Linked DNA regions of Homo sapiens: region 2 is linked to region 1. A link means that fine-mapping ties the variant in region 1 to the expression of a gene that starts in the linked region. Tissue or cell type: skeletal muscle. Region 1 holds a variant in brackets; the other region holds the start of a gene. All regions are shown on one strand. Distances are between the middles of the regions. Region 1 overlaps NAXD (NAD(P)HX dehydratase). Region 2 holds the start of NAXD (NAD(P)HX dehydratase).

Region 1 (10,458 bases):
GATAGGTGCACTCACAAACCCTGAGTTAGACACAGAGTGCTGATTGGTGTATTTACAAACCTTGAGCTAGATACAGAGTGCCGATTGGTGTATTTACAATCCCTGACCTAGACATAAAGGTTCTCCAAGGCCCCACCAGAGCAGCTAGATACAGAGTGTCGATTGGTGCATTCACAAACCCTGAGCTAAACACAGGGTGCTGATTGGTGCACTCACAAACCCTGAGCTAGACACAGGGTGCTGATTGGTGTGTTTACAATCCCTGAGCTAGATATAAAGACTCTCCACATCCCCACCAGACTCAGGAGCCCAGCTGGCTTCACCCAGTGGATCCCGCACCAGGGCTGCAGGTGGAGCTGCCTGCCAGTCCTGCGCCGTGCGTTCGCATTCCTCAGCCCTTGGGTGGTCGATGGGACTGGGTGCCGTGGAGCAGGGGGTGGTGCTCGTCGGGGAGGCTCGGGCCGCACAGGAGCCCATGGAGGGGGTGGGAGGCTCAGGCATGGCGGGCTGCAGGTCCCGAGCCCTGCCCGGCGGGAAGGCAGCTAAGGCCCGGTGAGAAATTGAGCACAGTGCCGGTGGGCTGGCACTGCTGCAGGACCCAGTACACCCTCTGCAGCCGCTGGCCCGGGTGCTAAGTCCCTCATTGCCCCGGGCCAGCAGGGCTGGCCGGCTGCTCCGAGTGCGGGGCCCGCCAAGCCCACGCCCACCCGGAACTCCAGCTGGCCCGCAAGCGCTGCAGGCAGCCCCAGTTCCCGCTCGCGCCTCTCCCTCCACACCTCCCTGCAAGCTGAGGGAGTGGGCTCCAGCCTTGGCCAGCCCAGAAAGGGGCTCCCACAGTGCAGTGGTGGGCTGAAGGGCTCCTCAAATGCCGCCAAAGTGGGAGCCCAGGCAGAGGAGGTGCTGAGAGCAAGCGAGGGCTCTGAGGACTGCCAGCATGCTGTCACCTCTCATTTTGTTTAATGTTTTCTATTTTAATGTTTTGTATTATCAGGTGTCTGTCAAGTCAGGATCACTTTACATGCTACTGCAGTGTATAATCTTGTCACAATGTATTGGCTCATAATAATAAAAACCACCAAATATTACATATATGTGTGTGTATCTATACATGTAGTTTTTTTTTTTTAATAGAAAACCTTTGAAACCTTCACTGTAATCCTATCAGGGAAAAATGATTCCCTGTTTATTATTGTTGTTATTTTAAAACGTGTAAGTAAAGTGATATGAAAAATACATAATGACTAATGATTTGGGGAATTCTCAGGAATTCAGATTTCCTGCCTCCGAATGCTGCGTATTAGTATCTGTTGGAGAACTGGATGCCCTTGCTGGGGCGGGGGCTGTCTTCATGGGTTAGCCTAGGAGCCCAGCTGTTGTTCATAGCGTTTCCAGTGGGCTTCGCCTTTCAGAGTTCCCAGTGTCCTGCCTTGTTTACGGGCTCTGCGAGTTCATTGGGTCTTTCTGCTTCTCTATTTTATTCATTTACTTGATTATTTTCCATTTATTGTTTGATGGCCTGATGTTGCATTTTATTAAGAGTCTGCTCAATTTTCTGTCACTCTTGGGAAAAGTGTCTTAGTCGGTTTTGCGCTGCTGTAGCCGTACCACAGACTGGGTAATTGATAATGAACAGGCGTTTACTGGCTCACAGTTCTGAAGGTGGATGTCCAACATCAAGGTGCCGGCATCTGGCGAGGGCAGAAGGGCAGGAGAGAGACCCTTATGCCTCTTTTAAAGGTCATTAAACCAACCCATGAGGACACTGCCACATCACCTTTTAAAGGCCCCACCTCCCAGGACCCTTCCCTTGGCAATTAAGTTTCACCATGAGTTTTGAGAAGACACATACCCACACCATAGCAGCAGGCATGGTGCTCAGTCTGGTTTTCTCTTCTGGCAGGGCATTTTGGAAGTGTCAAAGGCCAGGGACATCCCTGTTGTCATCGACGCGGTGAGTTGACTTCTCTCCTCCTGGCTCGGACTCCCGGAAGGCCTGTGCAGTGAGCACGGCTCCTTGTTCTGTGCAGGATGGCCTGTGGCTGGTCGCTCAGCAGCCGGCCCTCATCCATGGCTACCGGAAGGCTGTGCTCACTCCCAACCACGTGGAGTTCAGCAGACTGTATGACGCTGTGGTGAGTCAGTGGACCCCCTGGAGGGTAGATGCAAGCCCTGTTCGTCCTGAAGAGGGTGAAGGACGAGCTCCATGCTTCTGCCCAGCCTGTCCCTGTGGACACACCTGCAAGTAATCGCTGTGCCTCTCCCAGCGGATGGCGCGTCTTCCCATTAATGCGCTTGGATTGGATGAACGATGGTGTAGTGGGCTTGGGACAGGCAGGGACTCGGGTCAGTCAGCCCCTCCTGCAGTGCACTCTGGACAGGTCACTTTGTCTGTGTCCTGAGTGCCTCATCTGTAATGTGATGATGGCATCAGCTTCACGGGGTTGTGAGGATGAGATGAGGAAACCTATGTAAAGCCGTGAGTCCCCACATGGTAAGTGTCCCATCAATGTTAGTGCCCAGTACGACTGGAATTTGTATTACTCCTGCAAAGCTCTCAGAACCCAGTCTTGGGTGGTCCTCCTTCAGCCTGCTCTGATGAGGTAGAGGATGGGCACTGGAGCAGGCACCGTGTCAGCACCTGCTCGGAGGACTCACTGCAGGTGATATCCTGGGCATCCTCCCACCTACATGGCCTTTAACAGGTGCCTGGGTGATCCCTTTAGACACGAGAGCATGAGTCTCATGGCGGATGGGACAGGGCTATCTGTCGTCGTGTGTCTGAGGAAGACTTTGCTTTTTCTCTGTCTTCCTGTGTTGTCATAGCTCAGAGGCCCTATGGACAGCGATGACAGCCATGGATCTGTGCTAAGACTCAGCCAAGCCCTGGGCAACGTGACGGTGGTCCAGAAAGGAGAGCGCGACATCCTCTCCAACGGCCAGCAGGGTGAGTGGCGGCTGCCCTCTGTGCATGGGCCAGTGCCAGGTCAGTCAGCATGGCCACACCGAGCATGAGCCCTGGAAGACCTCTCCCGTGCACACCCGTGTTCACACACATTCACACAGGGATTCCTGATGAGCTCGTCAACCACACTTTCTTCAGAGTCCATGTTTTGACTTTTCACTGTTTTGCCAGGGGAGGTGACAGTGGTGAGGGCAGGCTTTCGAGCCGTGGGCCTTACCCGTTGGTTGAATTCCCTTGCCTCAGTTATGAGAAGCAGTCTGGCGGGAGGGTGCCTGCAACAGCAGGGCACAGTGCAGGGTCCCGCGTCTCCAGCTGCCACCTTCATCTCACCTGTGGCATCCACCATCCATGCAGTTATTTGGGTATTTTATTGCATTTCATTCTCTTTTATCAAAATGACTGGAAAGTGCAGAAAGCCCCGAAGCTGATGCTGGTAGTGGAATCTCAGGCACTGAGTGTGGCGAGTCTCAACTGGCCACTCCCACGGAGCCTGGGGAGGCTTCAGCAAGAGCCAAGTGAGAGCAGGGCAGAGGCCGGGCCCAGCGCCAGCGAGGCATCTGGGGAGCCGTGCCCTTGTTAGCGCTGAAAATGGAAGCCCCTCCATTCAGGCCTGGACAGATGATGGGCAGCGAATGTGCTCACCTGCTGAGCTGTGGGGCTGGACTAGGTACCAAAATCAGGGTAGAACACTGAGGCGTCTGTGGGCGGGTGTGTGCACATCCACACTTGTACACTCACATTCACATGCACATATGTGCACACGCATGCAATTCATACACATGCACAGTTGTGCTCACAGCCTCGCACGCCCTTGCACACTCGCACTTATACACATGCATGGTCATGCTCACAGCCTCGCACACGCCCTCGCACACTCATCCACACACAGCTGTGCACAAGGAACACAGAGCAGATGTTCTCAGAGGGACTCTGACACCTTTGAGATGAGGGTTTTTTAATCACTGGAAGGCTCTCTTGGGTCTAACAGGTTCAGAGAATGTAACACCTGGTTTTCAAAACATTTTTCAAAGAAATAGAGAATTCCCATACACAGGCATACGTGACGTTATGAGGCCGGTGGAGGCCTCGCTCGGTGTTGCCCTGTATGGTTGAGCTGTGGTTTAAGGTGAACTCTGGAGTGTGGGCTGCAGGTGAGGGCTCCGTCCCTGGGAGCTGGTGGGAGGAGCTGGAGGCTGGCGCCGCCCTGCTCAGAGCTGCCTGCTTGGGCTCGTCTGAGGCGGTTCCGAGCTGCAGGTGTCTCCACCAACCTGCTGTGCTACACAGCGGGGTCTGGGGCAGCCTCACCACTGCGTGTCTTGGTTTCCTCTTCTGTAAAACAGAGGCTGCCTCCAACCCTTGGAACAAACAGGGAAGAGCCGTAGCAGGCAGGATGTGAGTGGAGCCTCAGGCTGCTCCTGGAGGGTGTGGCTCTGCCTGCCGTGCGGCCTTCCACACCCGTGGCTACTGTCACATTCACACACATGGCCATGCTGACACCTGCTCTCACTTCTGCCCTGTGCAGTGCTTGTGTGCAGCCAGGAAGGCAGCAGCCGCAGGTGTGGAGGGCAAGGGGACCTCCTGTCGGGCTCCCTGGGCGTCCTGGTACACTGGGCGCTCCTTGCTGGACCACAGAAAACAAATGGGTAAGGCCACGTCTTCATTTATTCTACTTTGAAACCGTCTGATTTTTCTAAGCTGTTTCAGTAGCTCATGCGTTGAATAAGTAGCCCTGGAAACACTGACAATGAACTCTAGGCTTCACTGGAGAGATCTCGGCACAGACGAACCCTCTTGGCAGAAGCTTCCACCCCACACTTGGGCCTGGGCCTGTCCATCATTCACTGTGGATGGGGCCTGGGGCAGGGGTGGTCTTCAGAGCTCTCCAGAGAGTTCCGAGGTGCAACCAAGGCCCAGCAGCACGCTGTTCTGGGAAGTTGAGTGGTTTATTCTGTGTAACACAGAATACTAAGATAGAAAACAGACAGGGTCAAGGCTTACTTAGACACTTGTTCTTAAAGATGTGAATTTTCTTTAAGAGACAGCAGAATTCTAGGACCAGGGCCCTTGGCCCAGTTCTGTAGTCAGAGAACTTTATGAATGCAAGCAGTTCCCATACCTCTAAGCATCTCCATTTCTCTTCTGTGAGCCCATCAAGGTGGTGGCTGCAGGTGCTAGGTGTGGCAGACCCGGGCTTCTGGAGGGTGGGCAGGGCTGTCATCCAGTGGCCTCATGTGTCCTCATTGCCGGGATGGCAGAGTCTGGGACCATCCCCCAAACTAGGTGTGTCCACATGAATTTGAGAGCCGAGGAGGTAGGGGTGTGGGCAGGAGTCTTACTGTTCATTCTGCTGTGTTCACTCGAGTTGCCTCCACCCCTCCCCCAGGAGATGGAGCCCTGGTAGCAGGAATCCCCATTCTCAGACCTCAGATGCCCTCTGCACCTGGGCACTGAGAGCACAGTCAAACAGGGCTAAGCAGCTTGTGCCGCCTGGCTTTCCCCGGGAACACCTGGCCCACTGTGTGCCCTAGCCCTGGACCTGTCTCCGAGTACATAGACGTTTCCTGTGTGCCTCCTGCCAGGGAGTAGTGGAGGGTTAATGGTGGTTTTCGCTGTGATAAACCTGCTTTCTCCTCAGGGGCATATCAGACTTGAAATTGACAATTTGGGGTCCTGAGATTGAAACAGGAGTCAAAACCAGAGCCCAGGGTAGCTGCGGCCCCCGGACCACGACGCCCACTTCCCCACACCTCCTGCTGTCCCCCTCTCCGCAGGTCCAGCCCTCTCCTGGTGGCCGCGTTTGGCGCCTGCTCTCTCACCAGGCAGTGCAACCACCAAGCCTTCCAGAAGCACGGTCGCTCCACCACCACCTCCGACATGATCGCCGAGGTGGGGGCCGCCTTCAGCAAGCTCTTTGAAACCTGAGCCCGCGCAGACCAGAAGTAAACAGGCACCTTGGACGGGGGAGAGCGTGTGTGTGATGGGAAAATCCGGACCCACGCGTGTGCTGAAGGCGTACGGTGCTTGCCAGATTTTCAACTTGAGCATAAATTGGTTGCCATTGAGAATTTAAGAATCTGGAATATTGCAGCTTTTGGTTAAACTTAATGCATGGTTGGAGATGTTATGGCGACACTAAACAAAGTATTCCTGAACTTTCCTTAGCTCCTTGGTAGTAACTGGGAAGACAGAAATGAAGAAAATCACATGAGAATGAAGAATTCTTTAGCAGCTCAACAGA[G/A]TTTCTCGGCCTGCTCCCAGATCGGCGAAGTTTCTACTTGTTACTCTCTCTGCCGGCGCCCTTCGTTCCTCCTCTGCTTCCCTTCCCTAGTCTTTCCTCCGGCAGGGAGCTGGGCAGGGGTCCCCGGGTGTCTCCCTGAGTCCCGACTGCACTGACTGGGTCCATCAGAGGGCTGCTTCGTTCTCCAGCTCATCTTCTTTTAAAGTGGTGACTAGCTTGGTGGTATCTGGCTGCTGGTGTTTGGCTTATTGACATACTCCAGGGTAATCAATGATGACTTTGTTTGGAAACCCTTTTGGAGGCACCATGGGAACAGAAGGAAACATGAGTGACGCTGACCCTTGAGTGTGTGGGTGGGGAGCTCTGAGACGCCTCCTGTCCCACGCTCTCCGGTGTCCGTGTCTACACAGGGGTCCCCATGATACCCACCGGCCCCAGCAGGGCAGACCGGACCGGGGACGGGCACGGTGAAGGGCTGCAGCCTGGGGTCTGACGTGGCCCCTAGTGCTGTCTCAGGAGAAGGCTCTGGAGGACTTGAGGCATGCTGGGCCTGGTGCAGTGATGGCGCTAAGGAGACCCGGGGAAAGACAGTATCGTGGTCACGTATGCTTAGGAAGCAGCACAGCCGTGTCCTTAGGGATGTTCGCGTCCAGTAAAGACACTGGTAACTGCGGTTTCAGCCAACACTCTTCATGGCAGTGTCGACCTCGGGTTAGCTTCTGTTGTCTTTGTGGATGGTTTTCCTGGAGCGGCCTGACGTTGACGTGTTCTCTGGTCCCATGTCTTAGCGGGGCATGGTACGGTTTCGTGCCTGACGCGTGCATTAGGGTGTTCTCTTATACTTTCAGTAGCATCTTTCCACAGCAAGGGCCAAACCCTCCTGGTTCCCTTCAGAGTCTTTTTGGCCTGATGATGACTCTTGAGTGATACCCTGTGATGCAGACATGCCCCAGATGGATTCTACTTTCTTTAAAACTAGGGACTTTCAAGATTAAAAAAAAGATTGTCACTACTAATTTGACGCCTAACTTCAGAAGCTTCACTGTCTACATGTGAACTTTTCCAGAAAAACTGTGCCATGGACATTTTTCCTCTGGGGAATTAACATCTAAATTCTGGTAACTATTAAAAGACAGATCTGGTTAATTTAAATTGAGTATTGTATTTTTTTCCTTAAACAGCTAAAGCTCACCTTTCAACTTTCTTAGGTGAGGACATTGTGTGAGATGCCAGGGAGATAAGAATATCTAAGCCTGTCTGTGTGAGATTGGCCTCCTCGCCAGCGCCTCTCCCGTGGTGGCTGCAATAAAGCACCTTGAAGGATAAGCCCAAGGCAGCCCCTTCTTTCCTTAGGAAATAGAATTCAGCAGTCACAGGAACTATTCGTCTGGTTTTTGTTCTAAGTAAAACATCCCTTTGCTTAAAGGAGAGAATGGGTTTTTTTACAAGCAGCTCATTGCTTCCATGTTCTTTCTCAAACCCACGTATTTCACGCACTCGCTCCAGCCGGACACGCTCCCAGGAGCTTCCCTGGACCAGGAGAGCAACGGGAAAGTGTGGGGGGGTGGGCGGCCCGTAATGCCCCAGTACTGAGCAGCCCTGTCGAGATGCCTCATTGTAAGGAGCCCTCTGGGGACTTTTTCTATGTGGGTAGCTTTACTAGGGTGATTTTCTAGGTGAGTGACTTCTGAACTGTAGACAGGAGACCTGTACCTCAGGGTCACGGTTAAATGATGAGCAAGCCCGTATCCCCAGTCACGGGTCCCGCTGCTGCCTGTGCCCTTGGGATTCAGAGATGCCAGTGTGACAGGGAGAGGCCTGGCCCAGGGTCTGCGAGCAGGAAGAGTGGAGAGGGGTCACCCTGCTGAGTCACTGACAGCTGTGGCGCTGGGCTTACCACAGAAGGGTGAGATCAGGAGCAAGGTGGGTGCTTCAGGAGGCCACCGGTCCTGTAGCCCAGGCAGCCTGCCGTGTGCTGGCCGCCACCTCCCGCTCAGGAATCCTGTCTGTCACAGCTCGCCAGCTGGCTTTCAGCCTGGCTGCCCTGACTCCTCCGGAACCAACCTTTCCCAGGCCCAGCTCGACCCCATCACTGCTCTGCACAGACCATGACCACCAAGATGGCCTGCAGCTGCCAGGATGTTAACTGCAGCGGGACTGCAGACGGGTTCTCAGCTGCATTTTTCCTATGCTGAATACGTTACTTTTGTAACCAGAGAGAAAACGTAAGATTGTGTTCTTGCTGGGGGAGGTGTCCCGGGGTTAGCATTGCTGGCGTCCCACCTCTGCTTCAGACTATGCTGCGTGGCCCACCCACCTCACCCATCCCCAGCCCCTCCCTCAGGAGGAAACAGGCTGCATTCTGCCGCCTCCCGGGGTCCCTGCTCTTCTGTTGGCTGTGTTGTCTGTTCCCTGGGCACAGGGCCAGCAGGTCTCACGCACAGGCACGTGTGCTGCTGGATGCTACTGAATGTCTGACACTACTTCACTCAATCGACGGTGAGTCTGTAGCCACAGAACGCAGTGAGTGTTTAGGCTCAGTTACTAACAAACAGACGCCAGTGGGACACTGTTGGTTGCCTTACTTTAATGCTGACCTAGCAGCCCCGACAGGAAGCTTTAACATAAAGCCTTGACCCTGAGAAGCATGGGTGCGTCTTGTCGTGAGCAGGTTCATGGCTGTGCTCCATCCTCAGCCCGCTGATTTTTGGTCTTTTGTCCTTTGATCCAGCAGTTCCCACGTGGATGTTGTACTGCTTCTGTCCTGGAGAAGAAGAGTGAGGTCCAACTCTGAGCAGACACCACGTCATGTGGCACAGGGGGCTGACAGGCGTAATCAGGTTCAGGGTGCCTGTTCCCTCACCGGCCTGTCCTAAAAAGCTTGCCAGGCGCTTAGAAAGGGCCCCACTACCTCCAGCAGAAGGCCAGGAGCTTCAAGGCACCTGCAGGAGGTGGCGGGGGCTGAGCAGGACCCACGTCCCCGTGCTCAGCGTCCCCTGCAGCCAACTTGGCCCCTCCCTCACGGCCCTCCCACCTCATTTTTTATGGGGGTGGGTTTCTCTACTCAGAAGCATGGGCAGGGCGCAGTGGCTCACGCCTGTAATCCTGGCACTTTGGGAGGCTGAGGTGGGAGGATCACCTGAGGTCGGGAGTTTGAGACCAGCCTGACCCACGTGGAGAAAACCTGTCTCTACTAAAAATAAAAAATCAGCCGAGCATGGGAGTGCATGCCTGTAATCCTAGCTACTCAGGAGGCTGAGGCAGGAGAATCGCTTGAACCTGGGAGGCAGAGGCAGAGGTTGTGGTGAGCCGAGATCACGCCATTGCACTCCAGCCTGGGTGACAAGAGTGAAACTCCGTCTCAAAAAAAAAGCATGGTCACGGGGGATGTCTGGGCCTCTGATGGCCCCACGTCCTGTTGACCTACCCGGCTCCTGGGGTGATGTCCCTGACCTTGGTGCGGCACTCACCTTGATGTTGATGCCGTGGGCAGTCAGGCCCCGGCGCAGGGTGTCGCATGCTTCCAGCAGGGGCTGCCTTTCTAGGAGCTGCTGCCGCCGGGCGTCCCCCGTGGCCTCGGGCATGGCCAGCGCAAACTGCCGGACCTTCTGCCGGAACCGCACCAGCTCGTCCACCACACCATGCAAGGTAGCCTCGCTGCCGTCTCCTGAAACGTACTGAAGCCAGCAGGGCGCGGTTACGTCCCCCGGAGACTGTGGATTGTGGATGCCCCCTCCCCACCCCGTGGTTGGGCTCTGGGCCGACACCCACCCAGCCCTGGGCTTCCCTGATTCCCTGCAGCTGGGCCTCTTTCTGGGTCTGGCAGGGATGGGTACAGCCCGCGAGCGCTGGGCTCTGGGCAAGGCTCCACTCAACTCTGAGCATCTGTCGTCCAAGCAAGGCTGAGTGATCCTCACTCGGGAGTTGGAAGAAAGGGCTGGGGGCTGCATGCCGCCCCGCCCTGAACACAAACGCTCCCTGGCTTCCAGACCTCACGCAATTGTGGCCGAGGTATCAGGAGCAACCTGAGGATGAGGCTGGGGGGCAGCGACTGAGCGCTTGCACACGTGTGTTTCGGCAAATGGTCTGAGATTCACAGCCTCAGGTGCTGAGGACGGGATTTGCGCAGAAGGCCTCGCGCTGTCCTCCCACTGAGAACAGATCCTGGGGCGGTGTGGAAGGGGCAGCTGTACCTATTTGTTAAATCCATGTGTGTAAAATAAGAAACAGACACAACATTTGACCTTGGTGTCAAACT
Region 2 (16,348 bases), 21 kb before region 1:
GTGCTTCTGTTTGGATCAGATGTTTTGAGCCTTTTAACATCTTTAATAAACGTCCTCAAAATCAAAATCCTAAATTAAGTCTCTGAGGTGTCTTATTGCTGGGGCTTATTAAATCTATAAAAATTAATTGCTGCAAGGTTGTAGAACTTTTTTTTTTTTTTGAGACGGAGTCTCGCCCTGTCACCCAGCCTGGAGTGCAATGGCGAGATCCCGGCTCATTGCAACCTCCGGCTCCCGGGTTCAAGTGATTCTCCTGCCTCAGCCTCCCGAGTAGCTGGGATTACAGACACGTGCCACCACGTTCCAGCTAATTTTTTGTATTTTTAGTAGAGACGGGGTTTCACCATGTTGGCCGGGCTGGTCTCGAACTCCTGACCTAGAGATCCGTCCGCCTCGGCCTCCCAAAGTGCTGGGATTACAGGCGCGAGCCACCTCGTCCGGCTGTGAACATTTTTACAGCTTCCAGTCAGACCATGAACTCCACTATCACCACCTCTGGCCTGATAATTACATTTACTGGAAGCAAATCAGCTGAAGAACTCCCTTAGCCCCTTGAGGGAGTCCTTATCGGGGTCTATTAACTAATTTTCGTGCTGTTAAGTTGCAGGGCCTTGACTCCTGGGTACACATGTCGCATCTGAAGAACGCACTGACTCCTACCAGAAACTGACACCAAACTCAAGATGACCAAAGCCTCATCTTTAGACCTGGGCAAAGGTGACACTCAAAGTAAACTGCTTTCATGAAACACAGGGACAGGCCTGTATTCAAATACATTAAGGTTCATTTAGGCTGGGCGCAGTGGCTCACGCCTGTAATCCCAGCACTTTGGGAGGCCGAGGTGGGTGGATCCACGAGGTCAGGAGATCGAGACCATCCTGGCTAACAAGGTGAAACCCCGTCTCTACTAAAAATACAAAAAATTAGCCGGGCGTGGTGGCGGGCGCTACTCGGGAGGCTGAGGCAGGAGAATGGCGTGAACCCGGGAGGCGGAGCTTGCAGTGAGCCGAGATCGCGCCACTGCACTCCAGCCTGGGCGACAGAGCGAGACTCCGTCTCAAAAAAAAAGGTTCATTTAATAATTTTGCCTTTATTTGAAATAATGTAATATTTATTCTATGCCTAGATACTAAATAATTTAAAGGTTTAATTTTTTTTCTATCATTTGCAAAACTAGGCAGGGCTTGTGACCTTTTTGTTTAAAATGTTTTTAGCTCCTTGCGTTTGTTGTGCCTCCAGAATTTGAACTATACAATCCCTCCAGGCCCAGCATAAGATTGTAAGGGCCAATTCTGAGGAATAAAATTAATTCAGATCCTCCAACTGAATTAATGGATTCAGTCATTAATGGTCACAGAGATGCCTCAGCAGCTTAACAAAATGCTTGTGTTTTGTATAGCTAATTGCTACAAACCAGATTATGGTGGCTCAATGCACATAATTTATAAATAAGTCAATTATGTTACCTTGTCTTTTGGCTTTTGGTTTTTGGTTCTTATGTTGCTTAAAAGAGATTCGAAGGTTAATGAGTGCCTGCGCACTTCCATTCCATTTGGCTTAGAATAATTAATTGGTTATAAGTCTTTTGACTCTAAGTCCCTTAGCCGTAGGGGTCCCACTGAGGGACATGATAGACCTGGCACAGGTAGCACCCCCCCCCCCCCCCCCCCCCCCCGGCATCAATATGGGACAAAATAAAAGCTTGGCCATTGACACTGCCTCTGGCATACCTTTACAAAAAGCGGACTATAAACTAAAAAAAATCTGCATCCTCCCTAGTAGAATGGACACGCCTCTTGCCCAAAGGGGATCCAATTAAAAAAAAAAAAAAAACCTGAAAAACTAGTTCAGGCCATGATGGAAAGCTGGGGGTCAGACACGCCTCACTCCACTTTCCCCCATGCCTTGGAATTCAGGCACAAATGACCAGGCAAAATGCCTTTGCACCCTCGAAAAGAAAAACCCTCCTGCTGATTTTATGTGGGATGCTGTTAAAGCTGCTGTACCTTCTAGTACCTGGTTTTTACCACTTTTGGGCCCGTTAAGGGTGAGCTCATCGTTAATATTTGGCCCATGCATATTCAACTTGCTTGTAAAGTGCCTGTCTCTGGTTACAGCAGATCTAGGTAAAGGTGATCTTCAAGCTAGGGTTCCAGCTGCTTCCTGTCTTGGAATCAGACGCTCCTGCTGTCCCCTGGGGACCCTTAGATCAAGCAGCTGGAGATTCCCATGCCCTCGGTAGGCAGGGCCAGTGCTCTTAAATCAGCAGGAAGATGACACGGAAGACTGACCTCCTCCCTCATCTCCCTCAAGAATAAGGGATGGAATGGCTGAGCACGGTAGGTGGCTCATGCCTGTAATCCCAGCACTTTGGGAGGCCAAGGTAGGCAGATCGCTTGAGCTCAAGAGTTTGAGACCACCCTGCACAACATGGCAAAAACCCATCTCTACCAAAAATACAAAAATTAGCCGGGCGTGGTAGCACACACCTGTGGTCCCAGATACTCAGGAAGCTGAAGTCTGAGGATCGCTGGAGCCTGGGAAGGGGAGGCTGCAGTGAGCCATGATTATGCCACTGCATCCCAGCCTGGGTAACAGAGTGAGACCCTGTCTCAAAAAAAGAAAGAAAGAAAATAAATAAAAGAAGAAGGGATGGAAATCTCCAAGGGGGAAAATGAAATGGGAATAGCACTGGGTGGTCACAGGAGGATGGAAAAACCCAAACAACAGCTAGAATAAGAACGAGGCAAAGAAACCGCAGGTTAACAGAAAACCCAAAATAAGGAAGAGAAAATGGTCAAATCCTGGTCAGGGTGATATGTCCATGATCCTGGGAAAACTTGAATAAGGGTAAAAGTCTGTGGTAATGGGGGGAGGGAGTCCCTGAAATCACTCCTTTTCCAGAATACCTTATGATTATTCCACCCCCTAATTAAAAAAAAATCCATAAAATTAGAAACTCAAACTCTGATGTGACTCACTCTGCTGAGCACGCCCGCAATTCTCTTTTACGTGTGTGCTTTCGCTTTGCAGTAAAAGCTTCTTGCCTTTCGTTTCATTCTGACGTGTCCCTGAATTCTTTCTCATGCTGGTGTCAAGAACTTGGAAACTGGCTGGGGCTGGGGTCTCAGTGGCATCCAGAGACCCTCCGGAGACCTCCGACAGCTGTAGGTGATTGGGGGCGCCAATCACATAGGGGTCGGAGAGTGATGGAATGCACCTTAATTTTAATCTGAGTGTCATGGAAAACAGTTGGATGGTTCTATGCAGAGGAGTGACATGATCTGACTTATAGGAAAGATCATTCTATTGCTGTAGGAAAGCAGGGAGGTTAATTTATTAACAGAAGGTATTATGGGTTGAGTTGTGTCTCCTCAGAATATGTTAAATCCTAACCCCTAGTACCTGTGACTATAACCGTAACTGGAAGTGAGGTCTTTATAGATTATTGAATTAAGATGAGATGAGATCATTAGGGTGGGCCCTACTCCAATATGACTGGTGTCCTTAAAGGAGAGGAAAATCCCACGTGAGGACAAGGAGACCATCATGTGATGACAGAGGCAGAGGCTGGGGAGGGTGCCAAGGGCATTTTACAGTAAACCTGAAACACTCGTTCAGGCCGAGATGGAAAGGGGGGATGGATGCCTCATTATACCCTCCTCCCTTTGGAATTCAGGCACAGTTGACCAGCATTAACGTTAAAACAGAGACCTTAAGACTGACAAAGCAGAATTTTTGTAGCAATAAGATACCAATGTGACAGATTGCAAGCCCTGAAAGAAACTGGAGTATTTTACCCCAAATATATTCATTTGGCATATTTTGAAATAGCCTTGCAAAACTGTCTCTTTGGGGAAAAACATCTACATTCTGAGGAGACTCCCCTTCCTTTTCCAGGTCTTTTTCTTGATCCAGGAGATAATTTACTAAGAGTCCGGCACCTGAAGTTTGATAAGAAACATTTACAAAGTCCAGGTGAGGTGGGCCACACCTGTAATGCCAGCACTTTGGGAGTCTAAGGCAGAGGATCACTTGAGGTCAGGAGTTGGAGACCAGCCTGGCCAACACAGTGAAACCCTGTCTTTACTAAAAATACAAAAATTGGCCGGGTGTGGTGGTGCACGCCTGTAGTTCCAGCTACTTGGGAGGCTGAGTAGGGTGGATCGCTTGAACCTGGGGGGCAGAGGTTGCAGTGGGCCAAGATTGTGCCATTGGACTCCAGCCTGGGCAACAGAGTGAGACTCTGTCTCAAACAACAACAACAACAAAAAGAAACATCTACAATTCATTCTCTTTGAAGCCTGCTACCTGGAGGCCTCATCTGCACAACCCCTTATCTTAACCCAGACACTTCCTTCTACTGATTCCAAGTCTTTAAGTAAACTTTCTACCAATTGCCAATCAGAAAATCTTTGAATCCACCTATGACTGGAAGCTCCTCTCTTGGAGTTGTCCCACCTTTCTGGGCTGAACCAACGTACTTCTTACATGTACTGATTGATGTCTTCCGTATCCCTACCATGTATAAAACCAAGCTTAGCCCGACTACCCTGGGCACATGTTCTCAGGATCTGCAGGGGCTATGTTACAAGCCATGGTCACTCATCTTTGGATCAGAATAAATCTCGAATATTTTAGAGTTTGACTCTTTTCATTGACACTCATGCAGCAGACTATTGCCATCATCCAGGCCACACACTGTTAAATGGAAAAACCTTAGACACGTGTATGTTTTAACTGAGTGTATTTGAGCAAAACAAAACAGATTCCCGAATGGGGCAGCCCTCCAAACCAGAGCAGATAAGAGAACTCCAATCAGGAACCTGATCTGACAGCACCTATAGGAAACAGAAGTGTGTGATGGAGACAGCTAATTTGATTATAACTTCATTGCTTAACTGGTTACAGAGTTTCCTGCCATGAAGTAAAGCTCAGTTACTGTAGTTAAACTCCTTACTGGTTTGGTCTGGTAGGTGTAGTTCAGGGTTTCACTCTGTTATCAGAAAGGGGTTCCAATCCAGACCTCAAGAGGGTTCTTGGACCTTGTGCAAGAAAGAATTCTGGGCGAGTCCATAAATTGAAAGCAAACTTATTAAGAAAGGGAATAAAAGAATGGCTACTCCATAGGCAGAGCAGTGGCACTGGCTGCTTGACTGAATATACTTATGAGACTTGAAGCCAGCTGGACTTCCTGGGTCGAGTGGGGACTTGGAGAACTTTTCTGTCTTACAAGAGGATTGTAAAATGCACCAATCAGCACTCTGTAGCTAGGATTGTAAAATGCACCAATGAGCGCTCTGTAGCTAGCAAGAGGATTGTAAAATGCACCAATCAGTGCTCTGTAAAACGCACCAATCAGCAGGATCCTAAAAGTAGCCAATTGCAGGAAAGATTGAAAAAAGGGCATTCCGATAGGGCAGAAACAGAACATGGGAGGGGAGAAATAAGGGAATAAAAGCTGCCCCACCCCCCCACCCCCGCCAGCCAGCAGCAGCAATCCACTTGGGTCCCCTTCCATGCTGTGGAAGCTTTGTTCTTTTGCTCTTCATAATGAATCTTTTTTTTTTTTTTTTTGAGGTGGAGTCTCGCTCTGTGGCCCAGGCTGGAGTGCAGTGGCCCGATCTCGGCTCACTGGAAGCTCTGCCTCCCAGGTTCACGCCATTCTCCTGCCTCAGCCTCCTGGGTAGCTGGGATTACAGGCGCCCGCCACCATGTCCGGCTAATTTTTTGTATTTTTAGTAGAGACAGGGTTTCACCGTGTTAGCCAAGATGGTCTCGATCTCCTGACCTTGTGATCCACCCGCCTCGGCCTCCCAAAGTGCTGGGCTTACAGGCATGAGCCACCACGCCCGGCCTCTTCATAATAAATCTTGCTGCTGCTCACTCTTTGGGTCTATGCCACCTTTAAGAGCTGTAACACTGTGAAGGTCCGCAGCTTCATTCTTGAAGTCAGTGAGACCATGAACCCACCGGCAGGAACTAACTCCACACATAGTTATAGTTATCTCTTGATTATAGGCTAAATAAGGAGGGGATTATTCATGAGTTTTCTGGGAAAGAGGTTGGCAATTGCTGGAACTGAGGGTTCCTCCCCTTTTTAGACCATATAGAGTAATTTCCTGATGTTGCCATAGCATTTGTAAACTCTCATGGCGCTGGTAGGAGTGTCCTTTAGCATGCTAATACGTTATAATCAGCAAATAATGAGCAATGAGGACACAGAGGTCACTTTTGTGGCCATCTTGGTTTTGGTAGGCTTTGGGCCAGTTTCTTTACTGTGTCATCTTATCAGTGCGGTCTTTGTGACCTGTATCTTGTGCCCACCACCTCATCCTGTGGCCAAGAATGTCTAACCCCCTGGGAATGCAGCCCAGTAGGTCTCACCCTCATTTTACCCAGTCCCTATTCAAGATGGAATCGCTCTGGTTAAAAGGCCTCTGACATGTTGAGCCATCCTTTCACCTCAGCCTCTCAAGTAGCTGGACTACAGGTGTGCCACACCATCCCCTGCTAATTTTCCAAAAAAATTTTGGTAGAGAAGGGGGTCTCCTTATGTTGTCCAGGCTGGTCTCAAACTCCTGGGCTCAAACGATCCTTCCATCTTGGCCTCCCAAAGCATTGGGATCACACGCGCGAGCCACCGCACCTGGCCCCACAAGTTTCTTTTAGCACCATGACGGTGGCTTCAAATAGGGCGGCAGTGGAGGTAAGAGGCCATCAGCCACAGGAGGAGCGTGGGTGGGAGGGCAGGAGAGGTCAGAATGCCTTCCAGGGGTTTGGGCCTCAGCGTTGGAGTGATGGAGCTGCCCTGACCTGAGACGGTGGAAAGCGAAGGGGCCTCGCAGCGAGCTGGTTTGGGGTTCAGGGCAGAGGTTGCGCCTGGAGCAGAAAGGCACCTGACTGCTATACTGGGGGCACATAGTGGGCCTCGGCACTCCACCTGCCAGCAAAATCATTTTCTATAACGCCGCAAGCCTAAAAATGGGCCGATAAACACAAACCAGACCCTGAACCAGATCGTTGTTAACTCTTCAACCTGCCTTCCAGCCGAACCTCTTAGGCCAGAGCTGGGACCAGGCCGGGTTGGGCGTCGCGCTTGTCAATCATCTAGAACCGGGTGTGATTGAGCGAGTTGGGATCCCACTGCCGACAGCCGCGCGGAGGCGGTCGGGAAACCGGAAAACGCTTCCAATGGCTGTGTTTCCGGCGACGGCGCGGGGGCAGCTGGGAATCCGGAATGCTGCCCGATGGCCCTGGGTCCTCGCTGTGGGGCAATCCGGGCTTGCAGACGAGGTAAGGTCGATTCCATTTGGCCCGGGGATGGTCACACGCGCGGGGGCCGGAACTGCCGTCGCCGGCGCGGTCGTTGTCGCATTGCTCTCGGCCGCACTCGCGCTGTACGGGCCGCCACTGGACGCAGGTACCCGACCGCTGACCGCCTCTGCTGGCTCGCGGGGGGGAAGCGCCGCCGAGGGGCAGCCCGCGCGCGGGGCCGGGGCGCCGTGTGGCCTGCGGGGCGGAGTAGGGAGAGGACGGAGGCCTCCTGGAACGGCGCGGCGACGGCTGGGCGCGGCTTGGGTGATGGGAGCCTCCGTGCGGGGTGACAGAGGGGCAGAGGGTGGCGCCGGGCCGGAGCCAGTGCGCGTCCCAGGAGCGGCGGAGCCCGCGCGGTGGCCGGGGAACGGGGGGCCGAGGGCCGAGGACGGTAGGAGGGCCCTGGGGCGCCGTGGTGCGCTGGTCGGATCCGTCTGCTCTGCTCTGTCCCCGCTCCCGGTCTGGGAAAGATGCTCGCCAACTGCGGGCTTGCTGTTTGGTCGGAGCTGGATACGGGGGCCCTCCTGGGGCCCAGGGACGCGGCGGGCGTGCAGGCGAGCTGGCCGGCTGAGCGGGCTTCGCGCACACCAGGAGCAGGGCCGTGTCTGCATCCCCAATTTGAAGTCCCAGTGCGACTGGGCAAGTACAGACCCTGCACGTCCTTGGACGAGAGGGACTGGATATTGCGACGCCTGGGCCGCAGAAAAGGACTCCACCAGCCAGGCCTCCTTCGCCCGCCCCCGGTTCGGGGTGTGTGTGTGCGTGTAGGAGGTCCCTTGGGGAGGGAGGCTCACCTGAGTCATCCCCAGAACCTGAAGTGCTGGCCAGATGTCCCCGAGGGCCCTGCCCTGGCCTTGGCTGGTCCTTGCACGCTGAGATGCCTTTTCAAATAGAACGGATAAGGTAGAAAGAATTTAAACAGGAGCTGAGCAAGTGCTTGGAGCCCCATCTCTTCATAGGGTTTTTTTGTCTTTCTGTTTGCCTTGTTGGTATTGGTGTATCTAACATATTTTATACAGGAAGTAGTTCGTGTATATCTCATTTCTCATAAGGAGAGATTGCTGTTATCCACCTTGGTATAGAAGATAAATAGAAGCTCAGAGAAAGTGACTTAGCCAGGATTCTCCAGCCAGTGAGTGGCCGAAATGGTTAAACGCACCATTTGTTGCTGTAGTCATTAGATAGATTTTACCTTGTGTGTATGTTGGGCATCGTCAGAGAGTTTGGCTTTTTGTTTTCATCAGCACACACTGAGAATGCACTGGGTGGCGCTGAGAGGGTACTCTACACTGCACCTCACTCACACCAGCAGGGAGGCTTCTTAACACTTTATTTAGAGATTTATTTGTAGCTCTTTACCTTAAATTCACACACCGTGATTAGTAGCAAGATTTTTCATTGCGCTTGGTTGAGGATTTATTATCAGACTGCCTAAACTTTTACGAAAAGCCAGGTAGAGTTGTATATTACTGAGGCTTTAGGAAATATTTCAGTTAACTTAGGGATTGTGGTTAAATGCTCTAAATTAGTTATAACTCACATTAACTTAAAGTATTTTTGTTTTTTTAAGTAGAATTTTCCAGTACTAAAAGCACTTTTAGCACAAAGCAGCAGTGATAGTCTTCCCCAGACACGCTTCCTTAAAACAAAAGCCAAACAAATTTAACCTGTTCTTCCAGACTCAGAATTGTCTGAAGAGTTACCGAATGGGATACATCTTAAGTCGCCTATTGTCAAGGCCTTTTTATCCTTCAGAACTTTGATCTTTATATGTAAATGTTTCTGTGTTAACATTTGAAATGTTAAGTTCAAATGGTGACGTCAGTAAGCCAGCTGGAACTTGCTTCACTGCCAAGTGCTGGGAAGTTTAGTTGACCTGCTTTGGCCCTTTTGCTAACAGAAGCTGTTTATCTTAGGTGAATGCTGGTGAGCAGCCTGGATTTTACTTTGTGTTAATACAATTCTATTCAAGTGAAAATGCTATACTTCTTATTTTGCCTTAAAATGGCAGCATTTTACACCTACTGTGTGCCCACAAAAATAAAAACAAAAACATGGCAGCACTTTGGTAAAATAGTGTCTTGTGGCCTGGCTTGTCCATTACTAACCACAGCATCTGCACAGGTTTCTCTCTGGGCCCCAGTTTCCTTATCTGTAAAAGAAAGATAAAGTGCTAGTGAGGAGAGTGAATCACGATGTCTTGACTTCATCGAACATGTATCAAGTGTCTTGTTCTGTGCCAGGCTGTGTTCGAGGTGATTGAGTCCCACATGGAAGCAGTCAGTGCTGCAGCTTGCGGATGGTGCCACATTCCTCGTGGGCAGGCAGTAGTAGGGTGCTGATTCTCTGCCAGTCCAGACATAAGAACTTCCTTCTTATGTCCAGGTCAGCCCCTACCATGTAGGTTGTCTGTGTGCTCGAAAGGTTTCAGAACCCCACATGTAATAATAGTTACTTTTGGTATCACTTTGAATTTTTAAAATTATGTAGCAAAAAAGTTACTATTAATTATATTATGAGTTTAACATAATTTTAAGCTAGCTTCCATTTGAGAGCCGTTGTTCTCATGTGTAAATCTTGAAATATTCAGTTTCTGGATGGCGCTTCTTGTTCTCCAGGGTTCTTAGACCCAGCCCTTACGGTAGCATCATGGCCAGGGAACTGGGAATCTCACAAAGTCTTAAGATTTCACAACGGAACAGGAGCAGGAGGAGGCGACTCCCGCTGGTGGGTTGATCAAGTTGCTGTGAAGGTGGTTTGCACATTTTGGGCTTCAAAACACTACCTTCTGTATAAGATAAAGGAATAGCTCAGAACAGGATTCCCCCCGTGTTTTCTTCCTAGCTATGATAAAGATTGCCGTGTGAATGCAGTGGGTTTTACACACTCAGAATTGATATTTTTGGCTTGTGGTAAATGGGACTTTAATGCTTAACCTGCTGTAGAAAAATCCGCCTTAGAAAGTGGCCCTTATTCGTATATTGTATTCGATGTTTGAGCCCCCTGATATCTTATCATTTTAACAAAGCTTACCTTGAAGTGCAGGAAAAATTGTATGTGTTCTTGTCATTATTTGAATAACAACAAAAATCAGTATTAGCTTTAAAGCCTGTAGGTTTTAAGCGTATCCTTGCCTGGACTAGCATATCTCCTCTTTCTCAACCAAAAAGATCAGAAAGGTGCTATCCCAGTACCAAAAGTACTGGGAGGACTTTCAGCAGAGTGTGACGCAGAAGGGAAGCTTTTCCGCTCTGGGGAGCAGATGCGGAGAGGACAAGCACTTGGAACACAGCATCCCTGGGAGCTCTGGTGCTGCAGTTGTGACCCCGAGGCGGCCCTGCTGTGCCCTCCTGGGAGTGCTGGGCGACACTGGTTGCAGAGGGGCATTGGTGCTCCCCTCCACCTGACAGGTGCTCCACCTGGACTCGTGGCTGCAGCTTAATTTTGTGTCAGATCCTTTCCGGTAATGTATAGGTTATTTCAACTATGAGGCAAAGTGCAAATGGGTAGTTCAGTGTGGGTTTATGGTATTTGCCCTTTTTGATATAAACATTAAATATTTCATACCTCACCTATAGTACTTTTTTTAAGACTTAAATCTGAAATTTAAGATACAGATGTTTGTAAGATATGAATCTTGGATATTGGGAGAAAGAAGCCTCCTGGAAAATATACAGTATTATCTGGTGGAACCATTTTATTCCTTTTCTTATTGTGAGAAATACACATTTATGAAGTATTACCATTTAGGAGTTGTTTTCATCAGGCAGGGTACATTGATATAAATGTTGATTTTTAACATCCGTAAGTTGAAGTCTGACTAAATTGTTTTTCTCTGTGATTTCATAAGTCACAATTTATATTTTATATGACCTTAAATATTTAATTTGAAGTACTGGTATATTTAAAGGTGCTAAAACTACACGCATGCATCTCTACTAGTGGTTCTTAACCCAGGCTCATTTTGCCCCATCCAGAAGACATTTGGGAGTGTTGAGATATTGCTGGTTGTCACCACTGGGTGCGTGTACATGCACTGCTGACTGGGTAGAAGCCGGGGATGCTGCTCAGCATCCTTCAGTGCATAGAACAGCTCCCCACGACAAAGACAGGATGCTGATCGATACCCATAAATGTCTTTTTTTTTGAGACAAGAGTCTCGCTGTGTCACCCAGGCTGGAGTGCAGTGGCATAATCTTGGCTCACTGCAGCCTCCACCTTCTGGGTTCAAACAGTTCTTCTGCCTCAGCCTCCCGAGTAGCTGGAATTACAGGCATGCACCACCGTGCCCAACTAATTTTTGTATTTTTAGTAGAGATGGGGTTTCACTATGTTGGCCAGGCTGGTCTCGAACTCCTGACCTCAAGTGATCCACCCACCTTGGCCTCCCAAAGTGCTGAGATTACAGCGGGGAGCCACTGCGCCTGGCCCCATAAATGTCTCTTCTAGACAAGTGTATTGTTTTAAAACCATAATTTAGCCCTCCTGGAGGGATTTCAAGGATGGGTGCATTGGTCCCCTGCAGGTAGCTCAGCAAGCTTCATTGTGTCTCTCCTTGGCCCACAGTTTATAGTGATTCTGTGCCGGGTCTTGTGTGTTGGTCTGGAAGAAGGTGAAAAGATTTGGGGTTGGGCTGAGCGCGGTGGCTCACACCTGTAATCCTAGCACTTTGGGAGGCCGAGGTGGGCAGATCACAAGGTCAGGAGATCGAGACCACCCTGGCCAACATGGTGAAACCCCGTCTCTGCTAAAAATACAAAAATTAGCTGGGCGTGGTGGCATGCGCCTGTAGTCCCAGCTACTCAGGAGGCTGACGCAGGAGAATTGCTTGGACCAGGGGGTCGTAGGTTGCAGTGAGCCGAGATTGTACCACTGCACTCCAGCCTGGCGACAGAGTGAGACTCTGTCTCAAAAAAAAAAAAAAAAAAGAATTTGGGTTGATGGGGATTCATAGGATCTTTTTATCTTGGGGAATCCCAGCATCTGCTCTATCAGCTAAGGCAGTTACATCTACTCATAAAGAAAATTCCTTCAAAAGTTTTGTTGAGTAAAAAGTAAAACTGTAAGAGTTAAAAGACAAAGCTCTTTTGCTGTGAAACGCTCAGTGAGCTTTGGACTGCAGTCAGTGGAACTTGTGACACTGGTTTTTCTCTGCTGCTGAGATAATTGGAAGGATAAAAATATTGAGTGCCTTGTTTGAAAAAATACTGTTTATATTTGCAAAGATCCTTTCATTCTAGGGAGAATGTATGCTTTATTCATTGAGCTCTATAGAACATACCAGCATTTCTCTCATAGCCGAGCTGTTTTAAATATTAAGGTAAAATATATAACACAGGAAGCTCTTCAAGAAAGGCCAATTGAAGTGTAGCTGTTTAGAGACAACTCAAGATGATGAAAATACATTAAATGCCACTTTGAACCCAATTTAAGAGGTGTGCCATATTTAGAATGCCATTTCTAGGTTATTTAATTAATACCCAGTTGAGTGTTGGAATACAGTTGGGAGTAATATGATGAATCTGTCAGACTTCTGAGCACCCCAGCGGATTACAGGTGGGAGCTTGCTTTCCAGTTTGTGAGGAGAGAAAAGACCTAATAATCCTAAAGGGAAATTGAAATGAAGTGATAGTTTATTAAGTAATAATGCATTTTTTTACTTGATAAAACTTTCTGGAAAATTAAATGGTCTTCCAAAATTTCAGATACATTTCAAAAATAAACCTGATAGAAATAGCATATGTTGTCCTGGTGGGGTGGCTCATGCCTGTAATCCCAGCACTTTGGGAGGCTGAGGCGGGCAGATCACTTGAGGTAAGGAGTTGGAGACCAGCCTGGCCAACATGGTGAAACCCTGTCTCTACTAAGAATACAAAAATTAGCAGGGCAGGGTGGCAGGTGCCTGTAATCCCAGATACTCCGGAGGCTGAGGCAGGAGAATCGCTTGAACCCAGGAGGTGGAGGTTGCAGTGAGCAGGATCGTGCCACTGCACTCCAGCTTGGGTGACAGAGCTAGACTCTGTCTCAAATAAATAAATAAATAGCATGTGTTACTATATGTGTTAATTACATGTGTTCAGGCTGGGCATGGTGGTTCACGCCTGTAATCCCAGCACTTTGAGAGGCTGCAGCTGGCAGATCACTTGAGGTCAGGAGTTCTAGACCAGCATGGCCAACATGATGAAACCCTATCTCTACTGAAAATACAAAAATTAGCCAGGTGTGGTAGTAGACACCTATAATCCCAGCTGCTCAGGAGGCTGAGGCAGGAGAATTGCTTGAACCTGGGAGGCAGAGGTTGCAGTGAGCTGAGATCACGCCACTGCACTCCAGCCTGGGTGACAGAGTCAGAGTTCGTCTCAAAAAAGAAAAAAAAAATTGCATGTGTTAATGTAATTTTGAACATCATATTTGCTTACAGAAATCCATTGGGTAAAAATCTATAGCATTCGTAATAACTTTGGAGAGGGTTTTGGTTAATGGGCTATTATGTGTACTAACAATATCTGTTTACCTTTCTGAATTATTCATTTTTCTTGTCTTTCAGTTTTAGAAAGAGCGTTTTCGCTACGTAAAGCACATTCGATAAAGGATATGGAAAATACTTTGCAGCTGGTGAGAAATATCATACCTCCTCTGTCTTCCACAAAGCACAAAGGGCAAGATGGAAGAATAGGCGTAGTTGGAGGCTGTCAGGAGTAAGTAGCTGATGTGCAGTGTTGGTGTTTAAAAAGTCAGTTGCTGGCTGGCTGCTTACCTGACTGTCATTCACGCTGTCTAGTTTGACCTCAGTAATCATTTCCAAATGCAGCCTGATAGGACACTCAGTATTTTTCAGTGATCCACTTTTTGATTAACTAGGAAATAACTCTGAGGAGCCCTGACTGAATTACTCCCTCATGTGTGTCAGTGTTAAGTTTTGTCGTAGTGGGGAAATGAGCCTGTTTTTTCCACTTTCTGCTTTTCTGTATTTAACTGGACTTCATACCACAAGCATGTTTTTTGTATTTAGGATAGAAACACTCAGCAACCTCTTGGTTTACTTTGTCAATTTAAAGATGTTACTGAAAGTCATTTATGAAATTTGACAAATCCCTAGCTTGCTTCTGTTCTGTTTTGCTGCTGTGTTTGGTACGTAGCTGTTTGTAAGTTGTCCTTGGGTGTGAAGGATACCTTCTGCCTCTGACGGAAAGCCTGCCGTGGCTCCTCTGTTTCTGCTTGCTTTCTGTTTGCATGGATGTGGTATCTCTCTTTGCCCATCCCTCCATTTGCAGCTGTTGATCGTGCCATAGGGTGTGTTAGAGTTGTTACTGGATCAGGTATGTGTGCATTTTACATGCTGGTGACGCTGCCGAATTGTCCCCCCATTGCGTTAGTGTGTGTTGCCTCCCAAGAGCACCTGTTCCCTGCAGCCCTTGGAGGACAACCTTTGCTAGTGAAGTCGACAAGCTTTCTTGTTGTTTTAATGCATTTCTCTTATTAGTGAGGCTTGTTTTCACATGATGGAAGAGTGTGTGCATGTATGTTGCCTGTTCTGTACTGTCTTTTGCATTTACAACGCTATTGACACCGCTTTGCAGGAGAAGGCCATGTAAGGTGATGGGTATCAGCATTTGCCCAGGTCTCTCTTTCTTGGGTTAGCAAAACATTTCACTGCTCGGAATGGACATAAAGGTTGCATTTGCCCATCTGACGGAGGGCAGGGCTCTTCCTTTCTGTGCCTGAAGTGCCCTTAGACCTGGAGAGCCAGGGATTCCAGAACAGCCAGGCGGAAGCAGCTGGGTGGTGGGTGCCGTTTCTTGTTTGTCCCAGGTGGCCCCCATCTGGCCTCTGCTGACTGTGACTCTTGGAGGACGGGGTCTGCCCACTCTGGGACCCTGTCCATGCCCGACTGCTCCGAACATGTGGTTGTCACTTTCTTCTCTCCAGGCAGAAGCCTGCGGTCAGCTCCTTACCTTGAACATTCACATTGCAGGGAGACTGCAGGCATTACTGCCAGAGATTCACTCTCCTGAAATGCATGAAGGTTTTATGTAAAAGATCGACATTTCTGGCTGGGCGCGGTGGCTCATGCCCGTCATCTTAGCATTTTGAGAGGCCGAGGCGGGCGGATCACCTGAGGTTGGGAGTTTGAGACCAGCCTGACCAACATGCAGAAACCCTGTCCCTACTAAAACTACAAAATTAGCCGGGTGTGGTGGCGCATGCCTGTAATCCCAGCTACTCAGGAGGCTGAGGCAGGAGAATCGCTTGAACCCAGGAGGCGGAGGTTGCAATGAGCCAAGATCGTGCCATTGCACTCCAGCCTGGGCAACAAGAGTGAAACTCTGTCTCAAAAAAAAAAAAAAAAAAGACATTTCTAGTCGAACCTGGTTCATGTTCATTGAACATTTGCTGAGCATCTTTTAGGTGTTGGGTTTGTGCTGTGTGCTTCATGTCTCTGTTATTTATTGATAAACCATGTCTATATTATTTATGTCTATTTTTTATTGATAACCTATTTATTGATCAAGGTATGCTTACCTTATTCTCAGAAGTTTTTGACTCTAAATACCTTCTTTTTAGGTACACTGGAGCCCCATATTTTGCAGCAATCTCAGCTCTCAAAGTGGTATGTTTACTTAAAATTTCTTTATTGGGATTTTTCTGGTAGAGAGTTTGATTATTTAAATATGATTAAAGCAAATGTTTTCTGATAGAAATCTAAATAATATCTTAGGGTAATCATAGCTAATAGAAACACCGTTAAGTCTATCCTGACATCTGTGCATAAACAAGATCACTTCAGTTGAAGCTCATTTTTTTTTGAGACAGAGTTTCGCTCTTTTTGCCCAGGCTGGAGTGCAATGGCGGGATCTCGGCTCACAGCAACCTCCGCCGCCTGGGTTCAAGCGATTCTCCTGCCTCAGCCTCCCGAGTAGCTGGGATTACAGGCACCTGCCACCACGCCTGGCTAATTTTGTTTGTATTTTTAGTAGAGTCAGGTTTTCTCTCTGTTGGTCAGGCTGGTCTCGAACTCCTGACCTCACGT

The links. PIP is the estimated chance that this variant, and not a neighbour inherited with it, causes the effect.
Region 2: it holds the start of NAXD, and the variant in region 1 is fine-mapped to the expression of NAXD in skeletal muscle (GTEx, PIP above 0.99).

Annotation. Positions count from the first base shown.
Region 1 is chr13:110,632,645-110,643,102 of GRCh38, forward strand. NAXD (NAD(P)HX dehydratase) reads left to right here. Exons shown (of 10, transcript NM_001242882.2): 6 at 1,901-1,951; 7 at 2,028-2,132; 8 at 2,824-2,944; 9 at 4,485-4,605; 10 at 5,734-7,352. The coding sequence ends at 5,884. CARS2 (cysteinyl-tRNA synthetase 2, mitochondrial) reads right to left here. Exons shown (of 15, transcript NM_024537.4): 14 at 9,671-9,877; 15 at 8,773-8,964. The coding sequence ends at 8,893. Among named protein-coding and RNA genes, the nearest start is that of NAXD-AS1, 22 kb to the left of the region's middle. RefSeq lists enhancers at 1-584, 1,579-2,408, 2,409-3,237, 4,068-4,896. The variant G/A (reference allele first, on the strand shown) is at 6,201.
Region 2 is chr13:110,608,352-110,624,699 of GRCh38, forward strand. NAXD (NAD(P)HX dehydratase) reads left to right here and starts at 7,194. Exons shown (of 10, transcript NM_001242882.2): 1 at 7,194-7,296; 2 at 13,865-14,015; 3 at 15,883-15,928. The coding sequence starts at 7,251. NAXD-AS1 (NAXD antisense RNA 1) reads right to left here and starts at 8,002. Exons shown (of 1, transcript NR_182301.1): 1 at 4,731-8,002. RefSeq lists enhancers at 1,962-2,462, 2,463-2,963, 6,275-7,202, 8,104-8,153, 8,174-8,223 and silencers at 7,404-7,653, 7,664-7,823.